2 separate regions of the Homo sapiens genome follow, and region 2 is reported to be linked to region 1. The links are microRNA targets in miRTarBase. Many come from high-throughput screens and were not tested one by one. Region 1 holds a microRNA gene; the other region holds the end of a gene's coding sequence.
Evidence for each region. The annotated mature microRNA hsa-miR-505-3p reads CGUCAACACUUGCUGGUUUCCU and lies in region 1 at 2,144-2,165, shown strand. An mRNA with a match to its seed (bases 2 to 7 or 8) in the 3' UTR can be bound and repressed. Matches are read on the target gene's strand: a 7mer-m8 pairs with bases 2 to 8, a 7mer-A1 pairs with bases 2 to 7 and ends in A, and an 8mer does both.

Region 2: miRTarBase lists DIP2C as a target of hsa-miR-505-3p. The part of its 3' UTR that is shown has no 7-base or 8-base seed match.

Annotation. Positions count from the first base shown.
Region 1 is chrX:139,922,912-139,926,324 of GRCh38, reverse strand. MIR505 (microRNA 505) reads left to right here and starts at 2,094; the gene lies at 2,094-2,177. The region is part of intron 1 of ATP11C (ATPase phospholipid transporting 11C (ATP11C blood group)); the gene reads left to right.
Region 2 is chr10:274,405-277,817 of GRCh38, reverse strand. It overlaps DIP2C (disco interacting protein 2 homolog C), which reads left to right. Exons shown (of 37, transcript NM_014974.3): 37 at 241-3,413. The coding sequence ends at 493. Among named protein-coding and RNA genes, the nearest start is that of ZMYND11, 140 kb to the right of the region's middle.

The DNA.
Region 1 (3,413 bases):
TATAAAAAAAAAATACTATTTTTTTCTTCAAGGTGGTGGAATTTCCTGTACATCTGTAGTGCTTTATACAGATGAACCTTTTACATCTGGAACCCTCGAGACTGGGGGAGTTTTTCTGGTTAGGTGGAGGGAGGTTCTGGGCTTCCACAAATGAATTAGGTGCTGGCTCTCGAGTTTATTTCCTTTCACTTAACATTTACCTTCTTGGCCTGGTATAAGGGTAGATTAGCGGTGATCGTAAAACAAAACATACTGGCACAACTGCAGCATATGTTAACACTGCTGCAGCTTAATGATGAATGAGTGCTCAGCACTGCAGATATGGGCACAGGATGCCCTATGCCCACACATTGGCAGACAGCCCCTCAATTATTGCAGTGTATGGACGGATTACTGGGTCGGCTGACTTCTTGATAATAGAAGATGTGATTTATAAATGATAATGGACCGTGGATTTCCAGATTTAGAAGGTTAACCTGTATTTGTGAAGTAGAAATCATTGATTTCTTGTGCCATATGTATTTAATGGAATATGGGAGGATTGGTGATGTTGATGATATTGCTGTTCAAGCAGATATCATCATTTGTTTTTTAGACGTCTCTATTATATGTTGTCATAAAGTATTAATGTGGCAATGTTTTCCTAGTCCCTTTCTCTTTACCAAGGTATTCTTGGAAAAATCAGAAGTGTTCTTGAAAATGATCTTGCAGTTAGCACAGCATCAGGTAAACAGTAGATGTTCAATTAATACTTGTTTAATTGTTTTGAGCTGAATTGGTAACACAGTCTGAGTCAGTAATAACAGATGAAGAATGATCAGTTTAGGAAGCAGCCACCAAGAAGCTTATGCATTTCAGACTGGGCTACAAAATTAGCCAGGAGTGGTAGCACAGGCCTGTAATCCCAGCTACTTGAGAGGCTGAGGCGGGAGAATCACTTGAACCTGGGAGGCAGAGGTTGCACTGAGCCGAGATCGTGCCATTGCACTCCAGCCTGGGCAACAAGAGCAAAACTCCATCTCAAATAATAATAATCCTGTATGCTTACTATAAATACAGATTCCTGGGCCTTGAACTTACTGAATCCAAGTCTTGGGTGACAGACTCCAAGAAACTGTTTTTAACAAGCATTCCAAGTGGTTCTTAGGTTCACTAAAATTTGAGAACAGCAATATATAATATAGTAAACACGGAAATATTTATTTTCTGGGCACACTCTCTGTTCACCTTTTTGAACTTCAGTTTCTTCATCGATAGAATGGGAATAATAATACCTATTTCACAAGACTGTTGAAAAAAACGTTTGGTAGACTATTCAACACTATACCAATTGTGACAGAGGTCCTCAAAACCGGCCTAGGTTTGTTGATTCACTGGCAGAACTCAGTACATAGAAACGCTTGCGGATGTGATTTATTATAGCAAAAGGATACAGAGCAAAGTCAGTAACGGGAAAAGGCTCATTGGGGCCAAGTCTGGAGGAAACCATGTGCAAGCTTCCAGTCCTCTTTCACTGAAATCACACAGGTCATGCTTAATTCCTCTAGCAAATGAGTTTTGACAACTTGTGTGAAATGTCTACTAGGGAAGCTTATTAGAGATTCAGTACCCAGGGTTTTTAGTGGGAGCTGGTCACACAGGCACCCTCCACCTGGTACACAGCAAAATTCCAGACCCCAAGGAGGAAAGCAGGTATTCAGTGTAAACCCTATTGTTTACACAGCTTAAGCAGAGTGAGCCACTCTTATCAGGGTGATGGAAACCCTCCCAAAATCCAAGTCCCCAGACACCAGCCAAGGACCAACCTTGCAAACAGGCCTTACTAAGAATAGCAGTGTCAGGCCTGCTATGTTAACTCTTTCCATCACGCAAATATTGTGAAACACTGGTATTTTTTCAGTGAAAGGAAATGACTTGTCCAAGATCATTAAGCTAATCAGCAGTACAGCTGAGACAGACTCCCAGCAATCACATCTTTTCTTTGCTGCCCATAGCCATGCTTCTAGATTATGGGTCATTCCTTTTCATACTGTCATTGAAAGCACTTACTGTTTGTCACTTGAAGCAGAAGAGCAGCCTGCCGGTGGTAAATTGATGCACCCAGTGGGGGAGCCAGGAAGTATTGATGTTTCTGCCAGTTTAGCGTCAACACTTGCTGGTTTCCTCTCTGGAGCATCGCCAAGTTCGTGGATTTTCATTTTTCCTGACTTTTGGACTTTTGTTACTGCTCCCATTCATTTGCTCATAGTCCTAATACTCATTTGCATCATCACTTCATCCCATTCTATACCTTTTGGGTAACACAATTTCCAAATGGTGGGAATACTGCAGTATTTTGTCAAAGAAGACTATATAGGAAAAAAAAAATTCTGAGCAATGAATTTTATGGCAATATTTACAAATATTGGTTTATATCCTGGATTGTCTTTTGAGTTTTATAGTCATGGAAAACCCTAGGGATATCTCTGGTTATTTGGAGTTTCAGCCATTTTTACTGTTATAAAGGAAAATTAACAAATTTGTTATGATTGGAGCAAGGAATAAGGAAATCATACTGGATGGTGCAGTAATCCCACATATCGACAGGGAGTAGAAGCCAGGAGGGAATTGCCACAAGTAAGTAACAGCTGGGTAGAGCAGATTATGTAAGCTACACCTGTTGTGTAAGCAGTGGGGACGTTCTTTAAGCTTCACAATTAATGTATTTTGCAGTAATAAGGATTAAGGGATCTATAGTATAGTGTACAATTTATTCTGGCTTCTTTTCTGAAAACATTCATGTGAATCACAGCTTTCTTGGAACACTCATCCCCTATTTGGTGCTGTAGAGGTGTGTAAGGTACAGCCCTGCTCACCAGTAGCCTGCAGTTTGGTAGAAGAGAGAGAAGACCAGCACACAGGACCATCCTCCACACAAGGCCAGTAGGTCACCAGAGCCATCCTTTTGAAGGACATACACAGTAAGTGCAGTAGGCATTCAGAAGGAGGCACTGGCTCTCTGGCTTCATTTCTTGGGGAGAGCTTTATGGAGGAAGTAGCCTGTCAACTGGGCCTCTGGGGACCCAAAGGGCTGAAGGTTCTGAGATTTTAGGGATGGGCAGTCTCATTACAGGAGGAGGCAATTACCTGAGCAATGGTGCAGGGTCATTGTTGTACTTAAAGCATGGGAACCAGTCAATTTAGAGAACATACATGCCAACCCCAAATGAGTTTGAGCTGTTATAAAAAAAAGTATAACAGGTGGGGCTCAGTGGCTCACGCCTGTAATCCCAGCACTTTGGGAGGCTGAGGCAGGTGGATCATTTGAGGTCAGGAGTTCAAAACCAGGCTGGCCAACATGGTGAAACCCCATCTCTACTAAAAACAAAAATTAGCCAGGTGTGATGGAGAGCACCTGTAATCCCAGCTACTCG
Region 2 (3,413 bases), not on the chromosome of region 1:
GAAACAGTCGCAGAAGCCACCGAGAGAGAAGGCTGGTAGGAAACACCGACAGGTGCTGTCGCCAGGAAGTCTGTATGGGGAACGATTAGTGGGCGGCAGACGGAGGACGTGGAGAGGCCGGAGGAGACTGTCGGGCAGTGCTCAGGCAGGTCAGAGAGAGCCAAGTGGAACTTTGAAACCACGGCTATTAAATAAAGCATTAATAAACATATAATGATGGCTTTCTTTTCTGTCTTTTAGTGCTGTGTTTACCTGGACAAATTTGTTGGTGGTTGTGGTTGAGCTGGATGGGTCGGAACAAGAAGCCTTGGACCTGGTTCCCTTGGTGACCAACGTGGTCCTGGAGGAGCACTACCTGATCGTCGGAGTGGTGGTCGTGGTGGACATCGGCGTCATCCCCATCAACTCCCGTGGGGAGAAGCAGCGCATGCACCTGCGAGACGGGTTTTTGGCAGACCAGCTAGACCCCATCTATGTGGCCTACAACATGTAGTCTCGTCTCTTGGCTTCCATGGACTTTTCTAGAGATGTAGACATTGTTCTCCGTGTCCACTGAAGCGTGCAGACACAGGGCAACACTCACCAGAATACAGCCATTTGTGGTGAGAGTGGAGGAGGAAGAGGAGGAGGAAGAGGACTTCTCACAGCAGCCACGATTGGCATGGGGGTGAAATGTGAATTTACCACTGAATTTCGCTCAGAAGGACTTTGGATTACTGCCTTCAGTTTGTTGGAAAAGCCCATTTCAAAACTTTCTTTTCTTTTCTTTCTTTTTTAATTATTGGATAATAAGTGCTTTCTTCGTAAATGTGGTATTTTGTTAAGCCGAAATAGCAATTAAAAAAATATCCTGCCCTCCAGATGGGTTCTTTTAAACAATTTATGTAGTGTGACAAAGAATTGTTTTCTCTGTTTTAATGTGTCATGAAATCTTAATGACATGGATCTGTTACTAATTTAAGCCATTGCTAGATCTCATCCTTTTAGGAAAGTTTGAGGTACGAGAAAACCTTCCAAATAGCACCTTCCAATTAGATAATAGCAGCTTTCTTTGTCAGAAATGTGCTGAAGAAACAAAGGCTGGTATACGGCCTTCGAAGTTAGTATAGAATGAGAAGAAATTATAAATAAGGTGTATTTCGGCAATTATCTTGCAAATATCTTTGTACTAAACTAAAAAGATAAAATAAGTTAACTTCCTCAATATGTAATTATGTACAAAACGTTTAATTTATTTTGATCTCTTTAGAACTATAAAAGAGAAAAACATTCAAGAATATTAAAGTCTTGTAATGTTTGCTAATATAAAAAAGTGTTGTATTATCTTGCGTGGATAGTATCACAACAAATATATATATATGAAATATAAATTCACTAATGAACAAAGGAGATTTTAAAGTTTAAGATGCAGAACTTGTCACTTGCATGGTGTGCCCCCCGTACTCACATACACTCTGCTGTTGCCAGCAGTCGCAGACCGCAGGAGCCCTGTCTAAAAGTTTCTTCTAGAACCAGAGACCAGCAAGTGAAATTATTGCCATCTCAAGGATGGCAAAAGAATTCAAAGCTCAATGTGCACTATTTTTTTCTTTGCTGTGGGACAACAGTGAATGTGTTTATGCCAGCGTGTGCTGATGATACTGAGGGGCTTTAGGTTGGCAAATAGCACTGTTTTCTTAGCTGCAAGAATTCATTGCACAATGTTTTTCATCATTTTTGTTAATGTCATCTTTTTTTGGTCCTTGCTACGAAAAGGAATGCGATTCTGTGGTCATTCGCACTGGGTTGCATTGATTCCCCCTCTGATGGCCAATGTGGAGTGGACAAAGTGTCCGGAACTCACATCGGTGATCGTCCCCTCGTCTTAAGACCCAGCCCGCTCTGTGTGAGCCTCTGGGGCTCCCTCGCTCAGTGAGCACAGTTCCCCGGGGGTTCATGCCAGAGCTCCGGCTGAAGCAAGAAGTCCTCCAGCTGCGTCGTTTGCCGCCTGTGGACGAGTGCGCCCCAGTTTCTGCCCTGGCAGCTCCTGGCCACACCTTCTCAGAGCTCACCTGTGCACTTCTAAATTGAATTGGCCCACGGTGTCCAACCAAGAAGGAGCATCTGCACTCCGAGAAAGATGTGTTCTGTAACTGCCCCAGTGTGACCCCGCAGTGGCTCTCGGTGCTAGATATGCATGACTAAGATTGATGCTGGGCAAAATGTAGATGATCTTTCATTATGTTGTGGGCAGCGTCTTTCTCTGCCTTTGCTATATGCAGTCAGCAGTAAGCCTTTTGCTAAAAGAGTTTTGTTTGACTTCTGAGATCCAAGGCTGATTGTTGTTAAAAAAAAAAAAAAAAAAAAAGTGGCACATTTAAAAAAATGTGTCTGCATATGTGGTGCATCCTTCCATCTCCACAAACCATTTGATTCTTGAAATATTGTTTGACCTCATTGCTGTGTGTGAATATTTCTCCACATGCTTCAGATGCACATTCCTAGTCTCTGCTTCCTAAGGGGGGAACCACCACACATTGGGGGGAAAAAAGACATTTTCCTACACCCACCCACCTTGTTGAAAGGGAGGTAGGTTTGGGGCTTCAGGCCAGGCACTGACTATGAAACATTAGCTGCAGTGTGCAGGACAGCTTTGAGGTCCAGCTGAAGTCAGGAAGCAAAACAAATGTAGATGTCACTTCAAACATAATTTCAACTGTCACCAGATCAACTCTACATTCAAGGAGTGTGGACGCTGCAGTGCAGTTGTGAGGGCAGTTAGCAGCCGCCTCTTCTGCATCCTGTCAACTCTGATTAGTTAGAGTTTAGGCTCAAAAGAGTTGGTGGACTGAGATTGAAATTTGGTTGTGCAAGAGAAAGGAAAGGAGACACTTAGTACCACCAGTTTCAGCAATAAAGAAGGGTCATTCTGTATTCAAAATTGTACTGTAGATAAATCATTCATGAGATTGTAAAAAATGTTTGTCTTGTGACCTTGTGCTTTTGAAGTCAGACAAAACCGTGTAATCAACTTGCACAAAAAGAGGGTACACAGTGAACATATAAACACAGACCTAATCAAACAGGAGCAGATTCCTCATGGTGCTTGTTTATTATATATATTTAATCCTGCTTGACACTTTACCCAAGGGAGATGGTCCCTTTTATCAGTTGAATGTTAGCAGCGTTATTTCAGAGTGTGGTGACTGGTTAGAGAAACTCATGTACTCAACCAGCCACAGTTTCAAACAAAATTTTTATGTGCAAAGGACAGCAACCTTCTTGTATGTTAAACCACCAGTACGCTTTGTACATCTGTGATAACGCCTGTTTTATATTCAAATGAACAAATAAAAGCTTTTATTTTTGTTGCTCTGAAAATAGCAGTTTCTTAATTGGTCCCCTGGAAAGATGTCTGGGACAGCTTTAATCCC